4 separate regions of the Homo sapiens genome follow, and regions 2, 3 and 4 are each linked to region 1. Evidence: fine-mapped expression QTL. A gene starts in region 1. Each other region holds a variant in brackets. All regions are shown on one strand. Distances are between the middles of the regions.

The links. PIP is the estimated chance that this variant, and not a neighbour inherited with it, causes the effect.
Region 2: its variant is the best candidate, but not a certain one, in a credible set for the expression of VAPB in lymphoblastoid cells (GTEx, PIP 0.62).
Region 3: its variant is the best candidate, but not a certain one, in a credible set for the expression of VAPB in sun-exposed skin (GTEx, PIP 0.61).
Region 4: its variant is the best candidate, but not a certain one, in a credible set for the expression of VAPB in nasal epithelium (TOPMed, PIP 0.71).

The regions. Positions count from the first base shown.
Region 1 is chr20:58,386,861-58,392,571 of GRCh38, reverse strand. It overlaps VAPB (VAMP associated protein B and C), which reads right to left and starts at 3,343. Exons shown (of 6, transcript NM_004738.5): 1 at 3,055-3,343. The coding sequence starts at 3,112. RefSeq lists silencers at 2,815-2,934, 3,195-3,634.
Region 2 is chr20:58,431,740-58,437,450 of GRCh38, reverse strand. VAPB (VAMP associated protein B and C) reads right to left here. Exons shown (of 6, transcript NM_004738.5): 3 at 2,746-2,849. Among named protein-coding and RNA genes, the nearest start is that of VAPB, 45 kb to the right of the region's middle. The variant C/T (reference allele first, on the strand shown) is at 3,341.
Region 3 is chr20:58,439,518-58,445,228 of GRCh38, reverse strand. VAPB (VAMP associated protein B and C) reads right to left here. Exons shown (of 6, transcript NM_004738.5): 5 at 4,146-4,322; 6 at 1-1,152. The coding sequence ends at 994. Among named protein-coding and RNA genes, the nearest start is that of VAPB, 53 kb to the right of the region's middle. The variant G/A (reference allele first, on the strand shown) is at 2,774.
Region 4 is chr20:58,411,374-58,417,084 of GRCh38, reverse strand. All of the region lies in intron 1 of VAPB (VAMP associated protein B and C), which reads right to left. Among named protein-coding and RNA genes, the nearest start is that of VAPB, 25 kb to the right of the region's middle. RefSeq lists enhancers at 2,407-3,196, 3,197-3,988. The variant C/T (reference allele first, on the strand shown) is at 2,576.

The DNA.
Region 1 (5,711 bases):
TATCTCTAAGTCAGGGTATTCAGTCTCTATTAATTGTACTGTCTTAGCATTCAGTTTAAAACAAACAAACAACACACCTCATGACGTCATTTAAGAACACACACAGATGTCTCTTCTAAAGTTATGAGCCAGAGGCCTTCAACAATTTGGTACCACTTCTCTTGGACCACTTCCCTAGCAAAAATATCCAGTGACTTTGGCATAATTACTTTGGCCAATCCAGGGCCAGAATGATCGCTATTCTCTGCCACACCTTTCAGGTACAGAAGTGATGAAACCACTTAAGTAGTTAAGTGGTTGTCTAATCTCTGTATAGTACTATGCACTTACAAAGCCACTAACAGCCATGTCATTCCTTCTAAACACGTTCTACAAGAGGCAACGTGGACACGAGCATCATCCCCATTGACCGAATAACCACCCCAGGCTTTGAGGAGTGAAGTGGCCTAAGGTCACACATCTTTCAGTAAAACAATTGAACAAAATCTTAAATTTTCTCAAATGAGTGCCTCTTTCCATAACATATTAGACAACAGAGTTTGTACTGGGATTTGGGGGTTTTCAGAAAGTTAATGCAAGGAAGGACTGCTCAAGGAGAAGCAACACAATTTTAACTTGGACACTGGCTGCATCTATGCATAAAGGGACTGAGATCTGACTCTTGTCTACTCACCAGCCTTGTCTCCCATCTTGCCAGGCAACCACAACAAATGTTCTTTGTTGCTGTCATTCAGAACCACTAGTGGTGGCCGGGCTCACGCCTGTAATCCCAGCACTTTGAGAGGCCAAGGAGGGCGGATCACTTGAGGTCCGGAGTTTGAGACCAGCCTGGCCAACATAGTGAAACACCGTCTCTACTAAAAATACAAAATTTAGCCAGGCGTAGTGGCACATGCCTGTATGTAATCCCAGCTACTCAAGAGGCTGAGGCAGGAGAATCACTTGAACCTGGGAGGCAGAGGCTGCAGTGAGATGGCGCCTCTGCACTCCAGCCTGGGTGACAGAGTGAGAACTCTATCTCAAAAAAAAAAAAACTACTAGTGGCATCCCAAAGGAGCCCAGTCATCTCAGTGTTTGTGCCTCTGTGCATGCAATTTCCTCTGTCTGAAATGTTCCCCACCCTTTCCTTCTTTGAGCCTTCTTCTACTCGACCTTTATAACTGAGCTCAAATGACACCTCTTTCAGGAGTTGACCTCCTCAATGCTCCTGGAGCACTCTGGACTACCCTACATCATTGTCCTGTCCTGGCTGTTATTCTCATCTGCCCCCTTCCCTAAAGTACTGGGAGGAGGTTGAGGGAAAATAGGAGAGTACAGCTGATATAACTTGGCTTCTCTGGGTATCTGACACACAGATCAGGTACTCAGTAAATGTTTGTGGACTAACCGAATGAACCCACCAATTATCAGGAGAAGCCAAGCCAGGCCTCCCAGATAGAGAAAGAACTTCAGACAACTCAAGTGGAAACTAAGGCTCACTATTTTCACTTTAGCTACCTGGACTTCTTTCCCAATCTGGCATCCCCAGAAGGCCATGAGAACATCATGAAAGCTCAAGTACTATCCTGGAATTACAATCCACGGTAGGTTTGGTGGGGTTTTTCGGTTTTTTCATTTTAATTGGAAAGCCTTTGGTTCTCTGTAAATTCAGAGTTATTTCACATTGTTAACTTGGAAGGCAAAGTGACAGCCACCGTTCTGGAGTATTTCCCAGCGATCAGACAGCAAAACGGTTAAGAGCGTGAACTCTGAAGTCTGGGTTCAAATGTACCATTTGCCAACTGGGTAACTTTGGGTAAGTTACCCTACACTACTTCCCAATAGGACATATAAACTGGAGAGCCTCTGGCCATTCATTCATTCATAAATACCAACTGAGCATCTACTGTGAGTCCGGTGCTAGCGATATAGTGGAGACCCGGCCTTCCAATCTAAAGTACGCTTCCATGGAGTCAGACTGTTCCATTTCCTACACAGCACTTAGCACTATCTGCAATGATCTTGTGTGTTGGTTTGTCTGTCCTCGTCGGAAGGTAAGCTCTGTGAGAGCAGAGGCCTTATCTGTCTTGTGCATCCATCACCTCCCCAGAGCCTCCCACATCACTGGATACACGCAAAAAGAAAGAATGAGCATGTCAGACAAGAACTTTTACCTCGTGGCCCTGGTGAAGGTAGGAAAAAAAAAAAAAAAACAAAAGTAACAACATAGAAAACATAAAGGCACAAATTACAGAGGTAATAGTATCTGGGAGAAACCAGGGTCATGGCTTCCCATCGCCGCAGGTGTTGCTCCAGACAGCTCTGCGGAGAAAAAGGATCCCAGCACCGTGGCAGCCTCCTTGCACCGCAACCAGGAGACAGCATGAGGGACGCAGTGAAAGGAAAATGGGCCCAATCCCATCAGAAGTCCTGAGGAGGTTCATTTGTTGGTTCAACATGTTCATCTGTTGGTTCAACAGGTATTTATTTACTAGGCGTATAATGTGTGCTGGGTACACAGCAGCGAACTGACAAGAGCCTGTCCTCATGCAGTTTCCCTTCTAGTATTGAAACAGTGATTTTGGGTATGAAAAGTGCCGTGCTGACCACGAAACAGTGACGGAATAGGGAATGACAGCAGGTGTGCACGGTGGCTGGGTGGTCACAGCAGGCCTCTCTGAGCAGCTGACACCTCAACTAAGCCCTGAGGTCAACACTGTCACGGAGCAGGGGAAGAAACTTCTAGGCAAAGGCAGCGGCGGAGGCTCACACTAGAGAGGATCACAAACTGGTAAGTTACAAAGTGACAAGTGCCTCGAAGGCAAGTCCCAGGAGGCTGGGGGTCGGGGAGGAGGCGCAGGCCCCGGCTCCCGCACCAGCCCTCTCGGGTCCCGGCCACTCCGGGCAGTTCTGGGGAGCGCGGCGAGCGCCAAGGCCCGGCCCGGCCTCGCCGCCCCCCGCGACAGCGCCGTCGGGGTGGGGACGAGGGCCGACGTCACCCGCCGCGCCGGGCTCCGTCCTTCCAGCACTGGGGCGGAGGCCGCGGGCAGGAAGGTGGCGGCCTCTGGGGCTTACCTCGGAATTTGAGCTCGTGCTGCGGCTCGAGGCTCAGGACCTGCTCCACCTTCGCCATGTTCCTTAGCGGCGGAGCACCTTTGGCGGGGAGACCCCTGAGAGGTCACCGGGGCGGGAAGCGTTAATGCTGCGCCCGCTTTAAGTTTTACAAAAAGGCGGGGACCGGTCGGGGCACGGGCGGGGGTCCTCTACCGGGTGGGCGCGCTGGGGGGGGGTCGGTCTACGCGGTGCAGGCGCAGGGGCGGAGGGCGAGGGCGAGGCCGCGGTGCCCGGCGAGCTGACGGCACGCACGCACGCACGCACGCACGCAGAGTCGTACACACGCACGCACGCAGCAGGCTGGCCCGCTCTGGCGGCGGGAAGCTGCGCCCTGCGCCGCCGGCTCCAGGGGCGGGGACTAAAGCTGCGCGCGTAGAGCCCCTTCCGGGACAGTGCGCAGGCGCGGCACAAGCCACGGGGGCGGGACTGCGGGGCAGTAAGGGGCGGGGCTTCGGGCCGCTCAGGAGGCGGGGTCTGTAGTCCAGCTACGACAGCCACCGCGGAAACTATTAAGGGCCCGCTGGGGGCCAGCTTCGTGTTAAGTGCTTTATTCAATAATAACAATTAGAATAAACTTCCACTTTTCTCTTGCTTATGTAGTGCCAGGCACTGTTAGAGACTTTGAATAATAGTGAAAGTACTTAGTATAAGTATAATGTTTATGGGTGAGTGATATGGGCTAGGCACTGTGACGTCTTGTAAATAATAATTATAAATATAATAAACTACCAATTATTGCTTATTTATTTTGTATCACTCTACTGAATGCTTCCAATAACAACAGCAACTACAATAAATACAAGCTACTCTACGTTAAATGTTTACTATGCAACTGGCACTGTGCTGAATTCTTTACTAGTAAATTCTATTTGTTTATGCAACAAATATTTAGAAATACAATGATCAGAAAAGCGAACCTGATTCCAATCCTTTTACTATAGCCTAGTGAAGAGACATCTTTTGAATAAATAACCACACACGTAAGTTAAATAATTAAAAATTGCTGGAGAATCCAGATCTGCTTGACCTCAAAAGTGGATACTCTACATCATGATTACCGTTTAAATTGTATTTCATTATATTATGTTTACTATGGAAGTTAAATAGGTGTTCTTAATAGTCTCCTATACATACCCATATAGGTGAGACAAATGTGGCAAATTGCTAGCAATGGCTGACTCTACATCGCAGGTATATGGTTTTCTTGTACTGTTTCTCCCACTTTGCTGTATACTTGAAATTTTTCATGATAAAAAGGTTTTTTAAAAGAATAGTCTTTGTATTTTAACTGGAGCATTTAGTCCATTTACATTTATTATATTTACTGATATATCTGGAATTATTTCTACCATTGTATTTTGTTATTTCTATTTGTCCTGCCTGGTTTTTTTCCCCTTTCCTTTCTTCTTTAGGGTTTATTTTTATTCTCATTCTGATTTTCTTCACCTGTATACTCTATTTCTAAGTTTTAGTGGTTACTTCAAACTTTTGGGCATGCATACTTACCTTGTGAAAGTCCAATATCTTTAAATATTTGTAAAAATGTCTTTACCCTGTTTCCTTAAAATATAAAGACTTTGGAGTACTTTAATCACCCATCCTCTAAATTATACACCTTAATGTAGTGTATGTTAAGTTTAACCTTTGCCACTGTAACCCCAAGAGACATTACTAAATTGTTTTATTCAGTCAACATTAGTTTAGATTCAGCCACACAATTACCATTTTTATCCACCTTTTCTTCTTGCATCTCAGCTTTCACCAACAGGATCACTCTCCTTTTGCCTGAGGTAAATCCTTTAAATTTTATTTTTTTGTAGCTTCGTTGGTGCAAATCCTCTCAGTTTCTGCTCATCTGCAAATGGATTCATTTTTGCCTTTTGTTGTTTTTATTTTATTTATTTATTTATTTGGAGATGAGGTCTTGCTCTGTTGCCCATGCTGGAGTGCAGTGGCATGATCGTGGCTCACTGCAACCTGTATCTCCCAGGCTGAAACAATCCTCCCACCTCAGACTCCGGTGTAGCTGGGACTAAAAGCATGCACCACCACGCCCAGCTAATTTTTTTATTTTCTGTAAAATCTCACTATGTTGCCCAGGCTGGTTTCAAACTCCTGGGCTCAAGTGATCCTCCTGCTTCAGCCGCCAAAGTGCTAGGATTACAGGCATGAGCCACTGCGCCTGGCCTTGCCCTTGTTCTTGACAGATATTTTGGCTTGCTTGCTTGAATGACAGCTGTCCTCTCTCAGCACACTTGATTGCCATCCACTGTTTGCCTGTTCCCCCTCATTGCTCCTCAGGAGTCCAGTGACAATCTTAACATCGTTCCTTCATAGGTTGTTGGTCTTTTCTCCCTCTTCTCATGTTCTACAGTTTTACCATGCTGTATCTTTTTTTTTTTTTTTTTTTGAGACGGAGTCTCGCTCTGTCCCCCAGTCTGGAGTGCAGTGACGCCATCTCAGCTCACTGCAACCTCCGCCTCCCATGTTCAAGCGATTCTCCTGCCTCAGCCTCCTGAGTCGCTGGGATTACAGGCACGCACCACCATGCCCAGCTAATTTTTGTGTTTTCAGTAGAGACAGAGTTTTGCCATGTTGGCCAGATGGTCTCAAACTCC
Region 2 (5,711 bases), 45 kb before region 1:
GTGATCAAACAGCATCACCAACAGCGGAACAACCTGGTATGAAATACCAACTATGGAATATTCTTGCCAAAACACATTTAACTTGAATTTAATCATGAGGAAATAATCAAATAAATCCAGAATACAGGACATTCTGTAAGTCAACTGGCCTGGACTCTTAAAAAAAAAAAGAAGTTCAAAGTTTGGGCAGGGTGCAGTGGCTCACACCTGTAATCCCAGCACTTCGAGAGGCAGAGGCAGGAGGATCACTTGAGCCCAGAAGTTCAAGACCAGCCTGGGCAACATAGTGAGACCCCAACTCTATAAAAAAATAAAAAAATAGCCGGCATGGTGGCATGCCTGTAGTTTTAGTTACTCGAACAGCTGAGGTGGAGGTCAAGCCATGACTGCACCACTGCACTTCAGCCTTGGTGACAAAGCAAGACTTTGTCTCAAAAAAAAAAAAAAAAAAAAAAAAAGTTCAAAGTTTGAAAAACAAAAAGGTTTGGGTGTCCTCTACTAAAGGTCACTTTTGGAACAACTAGGAAATAATGAATATGAATTTATCACATAATAATACTGAATTGAAGTTACTTTTTTCAGCTATGATTAATAGTATCATGACTATATAAGAGACTGTCCTTGCTCTGAAGCATTTAGGGGTGAAGTGTCATAAATTTGCATCTCAAGCAAATAAGAAAGTTTGTGACAGAAAGGAAGCAAATGTCACAACATGTTAACAAATGTAAATCTAGGTAAAAGTTATATGAGTGGTCACCATGCTATTTTTTCAACTTTCTGTATATCACAATAAAAAGAAAAACATTTTAAAATAAAGAAAAAGCAGGCTGGGGCAGTGGCTCATGCCTGTAATCCTACCACTTTGGGAGGCTGAGGTGGGCAGATCGCTTGAGTCCAGGAGTTTGAGACCAGCTTGGGCAACATGGAGAAAACCTGTCTCTACAAAAAAATTAGCCAGGCATGGTGGTGCGCTCCTGTGGTCCCAGCTACTTGGGAGGCTGAGGTGGGAGGATCACTTGAGCCCAGGAGGTGGAGGCTGCAGCGAGCTGAGATCACTCCACTGCATTCCAGCCTAGGTGACACAGTAAAATCATGTCTCCAAAAAAAAAAAAAAAAAAAAAAAGGAAGAAAAACACAAAGCTCTCATTTCTCATTAATGATGGTTAGGCCTAGTAGAAAAGAACTATGGGTCACTTTAAATTTTTTTCATTTGTGTATTTCCAAAATTTCCCACAATGTACATTTTATATAAAAAAAATTTAAACTTATATCATCATACAAGGAACTAAAATGACCCTTTACTAGATATGCAGTGACTGGCCTATTACACACTCTGATAAGCAAGTGTCAGACACTGGACCCACCAGGCACTTACACAGGCACACTTCATACTCACCACTGTGTGAGCTGCATTTTTATCCCTATTTTACAAATGATCAAAACCTCAACAGAGTTAATAAAACCTGCTCCCAGCCACAACGTCAGTAAAAGGAAGAACTCAGCTCGAAAACACCCAAGCCCATGCTCTTTTCACTATGCCATGCAGCAGAAGCCAAACAGAACACACCCTTGGATCTTCCATTATTTTCTATCTGCCATGTTTCTTTGATCACACAAATTAACATGAAGTAACACATCATGTTGCAGAAAATCAGAGAAAGTTTTCATAAGAATTGTTCTTATGAAAAGAAGACAGCCTATTATCACTGATCTCTCTAAAAGTCAAAAATATCTGGCCTCCTCCTTCATTTTCTGCCTACAAGTGAAACATCAGCGGAGATGCTTCTCCAGAACTTAAACAAAAGGCTATGTGGTGACATAGGGCATGGGGTGGTCTTGGCCTGAGTTGCCCTTGGTATGAAACTCAGACAGAGGAGAACTGCAGTATGGTGTGATGAACAGCGGACTCAGGTGGGCAGACCTGCCGTGGATGACTCGGGGCTCCCCTTTGGGCGGGCCAAAACTGGAGAGCAATGCAAGTGGTATGAGGCAACCCTGTCCTGCTTTCCTGAACTGTAAGGACAAGCGCATCTGTCCCTGCTGGGGCTGTGGGTTGTATTGTAGATTTCAATTCAACTCCCAGCCCCAGAATGCCAATGGACTTATTCAAATGTATAAAAAGCTCGTTTTGGAGGGAATGTCCATTATACTCTTTTTTTTTTTTCCAAAACCATCACTAACATCACTTATTTCTTTTATAAAAATGAAGTCATCTTAATTTTATCAAAATTAGAGAAAAGTTAAACATAGATTTAAGCAGGGGGGAAAATAAATAAGCATATTTACTAGAACAAAGCCACAAACATGTATGTCTAAATGGGTGAGGACATTCAGCACTGACACTCTCACATGGCTCTTGAGTTTGTGGGGGATGAGAAGACAAGTAAGAAAAAGGCGGGACAATGAAAAGTATCCTTTTCTGTCGGGGCAGAAAGGAGAGGCGAAAGAAGGCAATCCCTAACCATGCAAGACACCATCCACCAGTGCAAGGAGCTGCTGAAGCACACTGAGCTCAGGAAAGTCAGAAAAGAACAGCCTTCTAGAAAGTCACAAAAAATGTTAAAATTATTCCTCAAAGTTTTAGAAAAACCATAAAGGTAGATAAAGTACAAACCTCCTTGAAAAAAAACTATTCCCTTTTAAATAATTTTGACATATTTTGAAATGCATGCACCCACAATTCCATATCTAATTGGTTTTTTAAATTATTGTTACTGAAAAAAATAAGAAGCATTCAGTACTTACTACTGCTTCCATATCTGAAGTGTCAGTTGGAGCAAACATAGACTGAACCATAAACTTGTGTTTACTTTTCTCATTGGGATCATAATCGAAAGGCTGTAACATCACTGAGAAAGAAAATATTTCATTAGGAGGGTCAGAGCTTGGTTGTCAGTGCCATTTATTATGCTAATACTTGTACTTTGGTTGTAAAGCAATTTACCGGCATTCTCTTATGTCTTAGGATGGACGCCCCTGGTGAAGTAAGCAAGGATGACCAACATCTCCATTTTGCAGGTCACCAACCTAAGAGCCACAAAATCACGCATGACAGAGCTGGGAATAAGGCCGAGGACCCAGTCTTCTGATTCCTAGTCCATGGATCTTTCACTACTGCAAGCCTACCGTAAATGTCTGCTACAGGCCTTACAGAATTGGGAAACTGGGTAGCAACACCATCTGCCTGTTTTGCTCAAGAAAACATATCCAAATGATCTCTTCAGGAATTAAATAGAATAATCTAAGATGTTTAAGAACATTTAAGGAACTGTTGTAGCTTCTCTCCAACCCATTTCTCATATAGCTAATCAAGGTAATCCTTGAAATACAATTTTGCCAA[C/T]ATAAAGCTAGAAAATTTTTACAATCAGGACACTCACACAGCAGGGAAAACGGTATCAGCTTATACTCCCCCTTTTTTTTCCCTAAGAACCTAGAGAAATCTCACACAGAGGATCCTGTGGATGAGTCACACCCACTGCATGGAGGGAGGTGCCTTCCTACCCCAAGTGGCTCCCTTCAGCCTACTTCCTAGAGTACAGCTGGGCCTACTCCTATCAAATGATGGCTGCTTTAAAATATGTTACTTTGCTACAAGGCTTTGGCTAACCCACACATCTAGTTAAGTTCCCTGAGACAACTTCACATGCAGGGAAAGCCTACTGTGGCCTTGACCACAACAGTGGGCATGGACTGAGTATCTCCATGTGCCAGAAACTGGGCTCTGTCCCTTAGGTTTACCATCATCTCATTTAATCCTTAAAAAGTAGGTACTATTGTTGGGGGAGAGGGGCTATTCTGGTGTCTACTTTTCACATGAAAAGAATGAACACAGAGAGGTGAATTTGCCCAAGGTTACACCTTGGTGGAGTGCAGACTCAAACCCAGGCAGTTGGTGTGGGGACCTAAGTTCACAGCCACCACAAAGGACTGGTGCCTTGTCCTCTGACAGTACAAGTCTTATGCTTCTCACCAGCAGGGCTTCTACCACCTTTCTGCTGGGCCCTCATCAGCATTCTCTTGCCTTGAAACCCCAACTTAGGACTTCCCAGGTGCTTCCTCTAGAGCCACACAATCAACCACAGCCAGCAGCAGATAGAAAGCAGGATAGCCGTGGTCTACAAATGAAGAATCTGGGATTCCACAAAGTGAAGTGGCTCCCTCAAAGTCACAATGTTAAGAAGTGGCAACACTGGGACAAAGAGCCAAGACTTGACTACAAGTGCAGTCTAGCACCCCTTTCACCACACTAGTCACTCCAATATGAGCTAGATTTATATCTGGCACCCAGGCCCCACGACAAAGCTAATGGAACCATTCACAAAACAGGATAGAAATACCAACCTCCCCCATCCATCTTAGGGATGCAGTAGCACTCTTCACCATGGGAACAGAGAAAGTCCACTGAGACCTAACCATGCATTGGACTTAAATGCACTGGTGTCCCTAGTCACCCAGACAGCTTCACTGCCCACAAGACCCACCTGAAGGCCCTGAGCTACAAGGAAGCCTTGCTGGGAGACTTCTTCAGGACAAAATTCAATAACTGTCAGAGAGTAAACCTTTTATCAACATAACTCTTTCTCTGGCATCACTGAGCTGGCAAGAGCTGACCTTTCCTACAGACAGACCTGGAACATTTACCGACCTGGGCTTGACACTTAACCTCAGGGACAAATGACCAGACTGGCAGGTCAATGCTTTTTCTGAAAGCCAAATTCCCAATGTGTTTTTTTCCTGCCCCTAAGATTGCAATAACGAAAACACACATTTTAAAGTAAAGAGCCAATGTCTTTACATGCTCTGTGAACCTTCCTGGACAGGGACTGTCAACCTTCTTTGGAGCTGGGATTCACTGTTAGATTAATGTTCCCTTTCTAAAATTAAAGTGAATTCAGTTTTAAGAATTTCAGGTCTTCCTTGGCTGTGACAAAATCATGCTCTGGTATTTTTCAGTTTAGGAAAGAAGAGAACTTTGACCTGAACTACTCTTAGATTTTTGGCAGGGCACAGATCTAGTAGTAAACACCGTCTTACCCTTGAGACTCTGTTCTCCCAGCTGTGAACAGCTATTGCACCACTCCCAAGTCTACCACTCTGGAGAGCTCTGAGGAGGAACAAGGTTTATTTGTAAAGATCCCTGATGCTCACATGACAGCAATCCAAGGAAAATGCTAATTTTTAGAGAAGCTATTTAGATGAAATACAAAAACCAATGGGTCCAGAGAACAGAACACACCCCCAAAAAACAGCCCCAGGAAGCTCTGCCTGCCCCTTCCCATTCATCACCTTCCTAGAGGCAGTGGGAGTAAAAAAGTACAGCCAAGAGCACTGTGTCCAGAGCTCTGCCTGGGTTCTAAGAATGCCCCAAGGGAAAACAGGTCCTTCCTTTCCATTTCTCCATCATCCCTCAGCTTCTTCATCCCCAATACTTTCATGATGGCCCAAGAAGGAAAGAAAGGAAAAGAATCTTTACTCATGCCTCCTGTGTAATAGGTACCATAGAAGGCAAATTCTCCTTAGTGCTCCCATTTACTACTCACAACAATCCATCCAAGCAGCACGTCTCCTTTTTCAAGATAAAAAGATAAGGGCTGCCAGGCATGGTGGCTCACAACTGTAACACCAGCACTTTGGGAGGCCAAGGCGGGAGGATCACTTGAGTTCAAGACCAACCTGGGCGACAAAGCAAGACCCCATCTCTACCACAAAAA
Region 3 (5,711 bases), 53 kb before region 1:
TACTCTTCATTAAAAAAGGTAACCTAGAGTTGACTGTCACTACTGAGAATTTCCCTCCCTATGACAGTTGTTATTTACTGACCCAGAAAAAACACTTCCTGGCAGCTCTTCTCCAGCATCCCAATAAACCCCACCTCCACATGACCAGACTCTCCAGAGACAGAGGAGCCCACAGCCCTCCAGCAGCAATACCAGTTCACCCAACAGAGTTCAGCAGCACGCAGCATTAACTGTACTCTTGTGACAATAAGAAAACATGAGATGAAATACATTAAATAAGTTAAATATGCATTAAACATCTCTGAATAACAGTTTGACTTCACTACATGAACCAATACAAATTTAGCTTGGTCCCTTTAAGTGAACAAAGCACTGCCATTTATTTCCAAAGCGCTGGGTCAATCAGTCAACACACGCCTCTCACTTATGACGAGTACGTCTGATGCTGCCACAGTGCAATTCCTTTGGGCTTCTGACTCTGTTCATCAGTCCCAAGGAGCTGATGGCTTGGACAGAACTGAAGACACGGAAAGCAGCCTGGGCCGGGAGTGGGCCACGTGGGGACTACTGTGTGGAGCTGACCGCACTCCCCAGCATGCTGGGCTCCAGCTCCCCAAGGGCCAGCACCAACAGGCGAGGAAGGGTGTCATTTTAAGAGAGGTAATCCAGCATCATGTACCAAGGCCTACCAATGTTTAAAATGACATTTACAATATGCCATTGTGGCATTACTCATGGTTTCCCTTGTCATTAATAAAGATCATTCTTTTCCCCCTCAATCAGTTACTATACATTTTTAACTTTCTAAAAGATCGTTACATTATATTTGTGTGTGTGTATCTGTGTATGTGTGTGCAGGGAGGGGTAATTTAAAGGCAAGACCTGTGAGATGTCATCATACATTAATTTCTTTTTACACATGGTTATGATAAATTTAAATCCCATGATATGGTGGATCCACCAATCCAATTTACCATCCTGTGCATGCTACCTCTACAAGGCAATCTTCCCAATAATTACACCAACGATAAAGAACAAAACCACCAGAGCCAAGAGCCGGGTGCTAAGGCCTTCTTCCTTCCCAGTTGGGGCTAATGCTGAAATGGGGCTGTTGCTCTGCACTGTCTTCCTCATCCGCAGTCCATCTTCTTCCTACGGGAGCAAACGCACATTTCAAAGACAAGCCAAGGCACCAGAAAGGGGAGTCAACTGTACAGCTTAACGGGATGGGCTGTTTATGCCCAGTGTTGGATGACATGATATGGTCCAACCGCATTTTGCAAACGGAGAAACTGCAGGCTACAGAGGGGAAAGGGCTAGCCTGAAGCCACTGAGAAAACAGTCCCCTCTTTTCTTTCATCCATTCCACTTGCTGCTGCTAGTTACAACAGACATCTAAACAGGGTGCTCCTTGGTTTCCCGTGATTTACAGAAAAAAGCACTTAAAAGGGTCAACTGGGCCCTTTGCACCCTCGGCCCCACCCACCTCTATGGCCATGTCTTCCGGATGCTTCTCTTCAACCCCAACCTCTCTGTCCTTCCTGCCTCTAATGAATAGCCTTCCTTGATCAAATCATCGATTTTTAAAATCACAGGCATTTCCCAAGACATAAATATATAAATAAAAGAATCTACAAAGTCAACTGGGCACGGTGGCTCATGCTTGTAATCCCTGTACTTTGGGAGGCTGAGGCGGGTGGATCACCTGAGCTCAGGAGTTCAAGACTACCCCTTGGTCAACATGGTAAAACCTCGTCTCTACTAAAATTACAAAAATTAGCCTGGGGTGACAGAGTGAGACTCCATATTAAAAAAAAAAAAAAAAAAAAACCTAAAAGTGGGACATCTGGAAGCTTTCAAATGCAGAGCTCTGTAGATAGCTGGTACTTAATGAGTTACATCCAGACTGCTGGATCAAATGATATTTGGAATATTAAAATGTGACTGGCCTTCATACACTCATCTCAAATATTTTCTACTTAATGCATAGATTTCTCATTGAAGAAGCAACATTCTTTTTCATACATATAAAGATATTTGACCATATTCCCCACCCTCCCCTTGTCCCCAAACTACATGGAAATGTAAGAAATGAAAAATTTTTTCTTCCTTCACCTCCACTGCCACAACTGCCTTGCACTTTCCTAAGAATCTGCAAGTTACTATGTAGATCTATGATGCCATTTCCATGCTCTCAAAGCCAAGCCCACATCCCTGAAGAGGGACATGCATCAAGCCATTCTATTCTGGCACAGACTCATCTTTGCTGATAGATCTCTTGCTAATTACCTCATCTCCTCATCCTTAAACCCCACACACCAGCTGTACTTTCTTTTCTTCGTTTCCTTCCATTCGCTCCCATCCGCCCGAGTACCTAGTAGGTCCTGGGGACCACAGGCAGATGAGTCCCATGGAGCTGACTCTCCCTGCAATTTGTTGCTATCTCTGTGGGACATTGATCACACTGGCTTGTAATCACTTCTGTCTATGTCTCTCCCTGCTATCCCAACAACAGAGAGCTCCTCAAGGGCAGGGGCTGTTCGTGTTTGAATCCACAGTGCCGGGCACATATTAGACCCTCAGTAAATTTGTTGGCCAGATGACAGAATAAACCAACACAAAACAAGAAGGCAGTGTTTGGCAGGATAAAGAATCTTCTAATGTTGAGATTGGTCTGATCATATTTTAAGGATATTCTGCTCATGGGGCATGGCCCGTATCACTGCACAGTGATAAACAACTGGTGGTGTCCGACTGGCTTAAAAAAAAACCC[G/A]GCAAACTAAACCATTTATTTTATTAGGTTATATAGAAGCTATTTCTACCTATTTACCACTTTAAATAGCACAGAACTCTGTTTCAGAAGAGAAATACACTCGAGAAGCTTCAGGCATAGCTTAGATTTTTAGCCAAAAAGTAGTGTCAGCTTCACAATTTACTACACACTAAAGAAATTACTGACTGAGGCAAATCAAAATCACTGCAAAGGAAGAAGATGATGCCATTTCCCAAATGCTGTCAGTTCTCCTATATCTACCTCACTGTCAGAGTAAAAGAGAAGAAAACTCATACTTTTAAAGCTGGAAGGGGCCTTAGAGGTGTTTAGCAAACAGAGGCCTAAGAGATGCTGTGACCAGCACAGATTCAGAGCTGTTTCATATTGGATGGGAGCAACTTCCACACCACCACAAGCCAAAAGAAGCACCCCCTGCCTCCCCACTTCATCACTCAGTACAATACAACCTTCCATTGCCAATGCCAACTGCCTCATCCAGAAGCTAGAAGCTCAGATTTTCCTTCCATAATCTCCACCTCCTACCCACTGTGAGGCACCCCACCTCCAAGCTCATCACCACATCAATAGTTTGATGAGCCACAACTGCCCAGACCTATTTAGAGTCTTCTAAAATCAGAACTATACTTGCATTAAAACAGAGTATAGGTCAGTATTCACTCTCTGAAAAAAGATTCTCACCCAAGTGGTTTAAAAATGCATATTCAAAATAAAAACTATTTTGGTCTCAACATTTATTTTCAATTTACAATAATGGAGAGTTTGAGTTGTTTGGGGTTTTGTTTATTTTGTTTTTGAGACGAAGTCTAGCTCTGTCACCCAGGCTGGAGGGCAGTGGCACGATCTCAGCTCACTGCAACCTCCGCCTCCTGGGTTCAAGCGATTCTCCTGCCTCAGCCTCCCGAGTGGCTGGAATTACAGGCACCTGCCACCACACCCAACTAATTTTTTGTATTTTTTATTAGAGACGGGGTTTCACTTTGTTGGCCAGGCTGGTCTTGAACGCTTGACCTTGTGATCGGCCCGCCTTGGCCTCCCAAAGTGCTGGGATTACAGGCGTGAGCCACCGCACCCGGCCAAGTTTTTTGTTTTTGTTTTTTTTTTTAAGGGGACAAGAGCTTCAACAGTTGAGAAATTTCTGATCAAGGGACAGTGGTTCTTAATTTAGGCAGATCCAAGGACCCTTTTGAGACTCTCATGAAAGCCATGGAAATTTCTCCCTGGGGAGAAAAAAATAGCCAAATACCAAAAGCAAAAAGAAATCTATATATTCACTGGCTCATCAACTTCCCCACCCAAGAAGCTAGTGAAAACGCCCTTGTTTTCTGTAGATTACCAGAAAATAAACTATTACCTTGAACTGCTTGTTCTCCTCCCGTAGCCTCTGAACTTCACCTTGCAGCCTCTTACATTCTTCCATAACCTTCTTAACTTCGGTGTCATCCAAAGAAGAACTCAGAGACTTAGACACTATTGGTGTTTCTGTCTTTGATGCAGTTGTGGATATAATTTTATTTATTTCTACATCATGCTGTTCAAAAACAAATGAAAGCCTAAGTGTCACCGACCATGTAATAATGGACTTTTTTATGCAAAGTAAAGTAGTTCTCAGCAAACACCAAACGTGGTAGCATTTCATCCACACTGTAAAATGTCACATTTATTTTAAAAATGGATTACTTTATCTGATATCTTAATAATCTAAAGCAACAGGGCCCTAGAAATTATGGATAAGGGCAAATAATGAAGTTCGGCTGAGACTAATACTTCAAAGAAAGAGAAAAAGGGCTGTGTATATTGCACTATCAAATTCCTGCCACGGAAAAATCAGCATACTGTAATTGTGCAAGCTCAGGAATTATTAGCCACAAATTACTGTCACCACAAAGATGTGAACATCCCTAGGATTGCCTTAGTGGGGTTAGGAGGCTTGGGAGAGCATTAGACAGAGGGCGAATTACTTTACCAACTTAGCATTTGGAAGCTGGGATGAAGGTGAAACAAACTCAGTGTCTGCAATGTTTCAATCTTGGGAAGTTACATACTCCCCTTATTTCCCCTGCCAAGATTCAGCTATGATCCCCTCTTGAGATTTACAGGGGATGAGAGCCAGTCAGTGGAGGGAGGGCATGGAAGCACGCAGCTTGTCAGGGAAAGAGTAACTGACGATCATTGGCCTGGAATCTAGCTCTACCCATCATTTTCCAGATGAGAAGAGTAGGCCCTGTGAAGCAAGGCCCCAGGCTACCAAGTCAACCTATCACAGAGCTGAGGCCAGAATACTGCTTTCACAGCTTCCAAACTGACCTTCCTGTGACAGGATGTACACTGGGAAGAGGGAAAAAATGACCACTATCCACTTAAAGAAACAGGGTAATGATAGTGGTAAATGATTCAGCAGAAATAAAATCTCAGGTAGTTTTGACACAAATCAACAGCACTCGCGCAGACCAACATAGATACTGTTAACACAACATTTCAGGGTACTTCTGTTTCCCAACTCCAGCTATTAATGGCTAGGATAGTTTCACATGCTGCATGCTTTCACAGTTTTGGTGTTTTTATAAAAATTAAAATGTTTTCGACTAGGTTGAAGGGAAGTCCAAATTAGCATTTCAGATACAGTCTCCTTTCTTCAACTGGTCACAAGTGAGGATCATGAAAGGTAAAGCGCTCACAGTGGACAGCCTAGAGGATGGGGCTCCTTCCTTCTCCCCACAGGCAACACCGGAATGGGATCACTCTCAATGGGGGTTGATATTGCCCTCCAGGACACATGTGGCAATATCTGGAGACATTTTTAGTTGTCACAACTGGGAAGTACTACCAGTATCAAGAGGGCAGAAGCCAGGGATGCTGCTATTAATAAAACACCCTACAGTACACAGGGCAACCTCCACCACCACCAAGGATTTGCCCC
Region 4 (5,711 bases), 25 kb before region 1:
GCATTTGCAAGGAAACAGGAAGTGAAGGTGGGGAAAGGGTGTGCGCTTATGTGTTCACAAACAAATACGTAATGTTGACTCAACAAAATCATTCAAATGTGTGTTTTGAAAAACTTTTCAATGAGACTCTAAGCTCCTGAGACAAGGATTATACCTTATCCATCTCTGTAGCCCCAGCACTGTGGCTGGCATAGAATAAAGATCTCAATCTACATATTCACCAAGAAGAAAACTACCTGTGTGTGGATTATCTCCAGCAAAATTAAGATCCTCAGGCTGGTGTCTCTACTCTTGAGGTGCTCCGGGCATGGAAAAAAAAAAAATCAATCTGATATGGGCTTACCTTAATACAAATTAAGAAATCAAAATGGTGATAAGGAAGGAAGGAAATGGGACTCAATCCCAAAATCAAACGACAGCTAGTTCTGCTATGAGACTTATTTTGAAAACATAAATTTGATCCAACGTTACTCATGTGCATATTAGAGGGACATTCTGGACATAAAACAATTTTCGTATTTGTTTCTGTGTGATTTTGTCTGCTATCAACACTGGTGAACACAGAAAACTGCTCCTCGCTGAACCCAACTGCAAAGAAATACAGAAAACTCACAAGCACACACACCTCAACCACCTACGGGATACCTCAGTTCACCCTCTCCCCCTTATGAAGTTGTGGTGTGAGGATCCCAAATTTAAGTATTTGTTTATTCCTTACACTGACCTCTTCTTCAAGGTACTCTACAAAAATAAGCCAAATTTAAATGTAAACACTTAACTGTTTTTGAAAATTTCCCCAGGTTAATCTATTACATCACAGTTAATTGCTATTACACAGCAATCTTAATGGTGCTTCAACTTATATAAACCACATAAAAGGAAGTCTAAACTATTAAAAGACAAGCAATATTTGTAATAATAAACAGGATAAAATAAACATCCCAGATTTCTCCCTCCACAATCCTGGGTCTTTACATGCTTGGGATTTCTTGGCCTTTCACAGGCTTTTATTTGTAAAAATCTGGAGGGAACTATACTGAAAATATATGCAATGAAACAACATCACTGGTAAAATAACAAAGTCCCGTGGGTAAAAATCAAGATATTTGTAAGAACAGGCCAACCTTCCTCTCCCTACTCTGGGCAATTTGCTCCAAGAATTTTATTGAAAATAAATTATATTCTATTTGAGTAATTATAGAAAATAAACCATGTTAGTGTTCTCCTTTTCCCCTGTATTAATGGATTAGCATACACAAAACCTTCAATAAAAATGATGTAAAAGCTTATGAGCATCATTCAGACTTTTACTAGTCACTTTCATTTCATAAAACTGCCATTTCCATTAAAGCATTATGTAAAAAATGGGATTTTACTATACCAACATGCATATTTACCACCAATGAATTTAAACACTGCTTATAAAGTACAGTCAATTTTACAAATGAAATCTCCTTCTAAACTTAGAATTTTTCCTTTTTAGAGATAAAAAAAAATGATGTGTCTCTAGAACCACAGCATACACTTCAAATCATTTTTAATCTTCTATTCCTTATTTCAGATAATGTCTGTAACAAAACCAGGAACTAAGCATCTAAAATGTGAAATGGGAGGTTAAAAAAGTGAAAAAACATGAATTTGGGAGAAACTGGCAATACTCTTTGAAACTGTTACTCTTTTTAATAATGTAAACAATGCCCTTTATGTCCTAGATTATGCATATACTCATCTGTGAACATTTGTGTGAGTTTGCTGAAGATGCTTATGAAACAGCACTAATGAACTGAAAATGAATTCCTTGACATGCTGTAAAAGGTATTTAGATAAAGCTAAACACAGTATAATTTATTTCCTCTACCTTCCCCCAGGACCCACTGTGCTTGGATTTTTGTCATTTTAAATTGTGTTTAAGGCAATAAGAGGTAAGAGTAAGACAGTAAGAGGGGCTAGAATTGATCTGTTTTACAAGGCAAATACAGAGTGCCTGCGATTGCAGGCTCGCGCCGCCACGCCTGACTGGTTTTGGTGGAGACGGGGTTTCGCTGTGTTGGCCAGGCCGGTCTCCAGCCCCTAACCGCAAGTGATCCGCCGGCCTCGGCCTCCCGACGTGCCGGGATTGCAGGCGGAGTCTCGTTCACTCAGTGCTCGGTGGTGCCCAGGCTGGAGTGCAGTGGCGTGATCTCGGCTCGCTACAACCTCCACCTCCCAGCCGCCTGCCTTGGCCTCCCAGAGTGCTGAGATTGCAGCCTCTGCCCGGCCGCCACCCCGTCTGGGAAGTGGGGAGCGTCTCTGCCTGGCCACCCATCGTCTGGGATGTGGGGAGCCCCTCTGCCTGGCTGCCCAGTCTGGGAGGTGAGGAGCGTCTCCGACCGGCCGCCATCCCATCTAGGAGGTGAGGAGCGCCTCTTTCCGGCCGCCATCACATCTAGGAAGTGAGGAGCGTCTCTGCCCGGCCGCCCATCGTCTGAGATGTGGGGAGCGCCTCTGCCCCGCCGCCCCGTCTGGGATGTGAGGAGCGCCTCTGCCCGGCCACGACCCCGTCTGGGAGGTGAGGAGCATCTCTGCCCCACCGCCC[C/T]GTCTGAGAGGTGAGGAGACCCTCTGCCCGGCAACCGCCCCGTCTGAGGAGTGGGGAGACCCTCCGCCCGGCGGCTGCCCCGTCTGAGGGGTGGGGAGCCTCTCCGCCCGGCGGCCACCCCGTCTGGGAGGTGGGGGGCGTCTCCGCCCGGCGGCCGCCCCGTCCGGGAGGGAGGTGGGGGGGGTCAGCCCCCCGCCAGGCCAGCAGCCCCATCCGGGAGGGAGGTGGGGGGGTCAGCCCCACGCCCCGCCAGCCGCCCCGTCCAGGAGGGAGGTTGGGGGGTCAGCCCCCCGCCCGGCCAGCCGCCCCGTCAGGGAGGGAGGTGGGGGGTCAGCCCCCCGCCCGGCCAGCCGCCCCGTCCGGGAGGGAGGTCGGGGCGTCAGCCTCCCGCCCGGCCAGCCGCCCCGTCCGGGAGGTGAGGGGCGCCTCTGCCTGGCCGCCCCTACTGGGAAGTGAGGAGCCCCTCTGCCAGGCCAGCCGCCCTATCTGGGAGGGAGGTGGCGGGGTCAGCCCCCCGCCCGGCCAGCTGCCCCGTCCGGGAGGGAGGTGGGGAGGTCAGCCCCCCACCCGGCCAGCCGCCCCATCCGGGAGGTGAGGGGCGCCTCTGCCCGGCCGCCCCTACTGGGAAGTGAGGAGCCCCTCTGCCAGGCCAGCCGCCCTATCTGGGAGGGAGGTGGCGGGGTCAGCCCCCCGCCCGGCCAGCTGCCCCGTCCGGGAGGGAGGTGGGGAGGTCAGCCCCCCGCCCGGCCAGCGGCCCCACCCGGGAGGTGACGGGCGCCTCTGCCCGGCCGCCCCTACTGGGAAGTGAGGAGCCCCTCTGCCTGGCCACCACCCCGTCTGGGAGGTGTGCCCAACAGCTCATTGAGAACGGGCCAGGATGACAATGGCGGCTTTGTGGAATAGAAAGGCGGGAAAGGTGGGGAAAAGATTGAGAAATCGGATGGTTGCCATGTCTGTGTAGAAAGAAGTAGACATGGGAGACTTTTCATTTTGTTCTGTACTAAGAAAACTTCTGCCTTGGGATCCTGTTGATCGGTGACCTTACCCCCAACCCTGTGCTCTCTGAAACATGTGCTGTGTCCACTCAGGGTTAAATGGATTAAGGGCGGTGCAAGATGTGCTTTGTTAAACAGATGCTTGAAGGCAGCATGCTCGTTAAGAGTCATCACCAGTCCCTAATCTCAAGTACCCAGGGACACAAACACTGCGGAAGGCCGCAGGGTCCTCTGCCTAGGAAAACCAGAGACCTTTGTTCACTTGTTTATCTGCTGACCTTCCCTCCACTATTGTCCTATGACCCTGCCAAATCCCCCTCTGTGAGAAACACCCAAGAATTATCAATAAAAAATAAATTAAAAAAAAAAAAAAAAGAAGGCAAATACAATACCAGCAAAAACTTGCATACCATTAAAAGTGAAAGAAGAAATAGTTGCTTTTTACTCTTAATTACAAAAATTGGGCCTTAAGATGTATAAAGTTCTGGTTTGAAGGTCAAAGACCGTCACAATCCAGCACAACATGAAGAGGTCAGGTTCCAGGTGTTGAAAATGTCATAAAAAAATGGCTGAATAAACTTGTCAGGAAACCTAAGAGCATTTTATGGGAAAAGTATTCCATTAAATCTTTAAACAGTCTCCTGATCTACATATGATTTAAATGCTTTTCTGTAATTATTCATTCAAGAGCCATGGAAGAAAAATTAAAACGCTTCCCTTCAGGAAATGTAAATACTATCTTTACAAAAGAATAATTTAAAAGTTCATGTCCCATCAAATTATAAAAAGTAATAATGAAAATTTCCAGTGAACTGAAAACTCAATCTAGGCCTTACCTATCTGTATTACCTCAAGCATAGCATAACATCCTATCTACTAAATGGCAAGATAGAAGTTTTTAAGGAGTAAATATATAATTTTACCTTTTTTTTTTTTTTGAGACAGAGTCTCACTCTGTCACCCAGGCTGGAGTGCAGTGGCACGATCTTGGCTCACTGCAACCTCCACCTCCCAGGTTCAAGCGATTCTCATGCCCCAACCTCCCAAGTAGCTAGGACCACAGGCATATGCCACACCTGGCTAATTTTTGTATTTTTAATAGAGACAGGGTTTTACTACATTGGCTAGGGTGGTCTCAAACTCCTGACCTCAAATGATCCACCCACCTTGGCATCCCAAAGTGCTGGGATTAGAGGTGTGAGCCTCCACGCCCAGCCATAATTTTACTTTTAACTTAGCAATTCTACCAGAAAAATAAAGGCTAAAGTATATTTAGACCCCAAACTATAAAACTCCTACAGGATGACAGAATAAAATCTAGATGGCCTTGGATTTGGAGATGACTACTTACAACACCAAAACAAAATCCATGAAAAAAATAACTGATTAGCTAGACTTCATTAAAAATAAAAACATCTGTTCTGCAGAAGACAAGCCACAAGCCAGGAGAAAATATTTGCTAAAAACATACCTGAATAAAATACTGTCAACCAAACTATACAAAGAACTCTTAAAACTCAATAATATGAAAATGAAGGCTGGGCACAGTGGCTCATGCCTGTAATCCCAGCACTTTGGGAGGCTGTGGCGGGTGGATCACAACGTCAGGAGATCGAGACCATCCTGGCTAACACGGTGAAACCCCGTCTCTACTAAAAATACAAAAAAATTAGCCGGGCGTGGTGGTGGGCACCTGTAGTCCCAGCTACTCTGGAGGCTGAGGCAGGGGAATGGCCTGAACCAGGGAGGCGGAGCTTCCAATGTGCTGAGATCGTGCCACTGCACTCCAGTCTGGGTGACAGAGCGAAAGAGACTCCGTCTCAAAAAATAATAAAAATAAAATAAAATAAAATGAACAACCTAATTTTAAAATGGGCAAAAGATCTGAACAGCCACCTCACCAAAAACGTACAGAAAGCAAATAAACATACGAAAAGATGTCTGGCCGGGTGCGGTGGCTCACGCCTGTAATCAGGAGGCCAAGGCGGGTGGATCAGCTGAGGTCAGGAATTCGAGACCAGCTTGGCCAACATGGTGAAACCCTGTCTCTACTGAAAATACAAAAAGTAGCCAGGTGTGGTGGCCCATGCCTGTAGTCCCAGCTACTGGGGAGGCTGAGGCAGGAGGATCACTTGAACCCG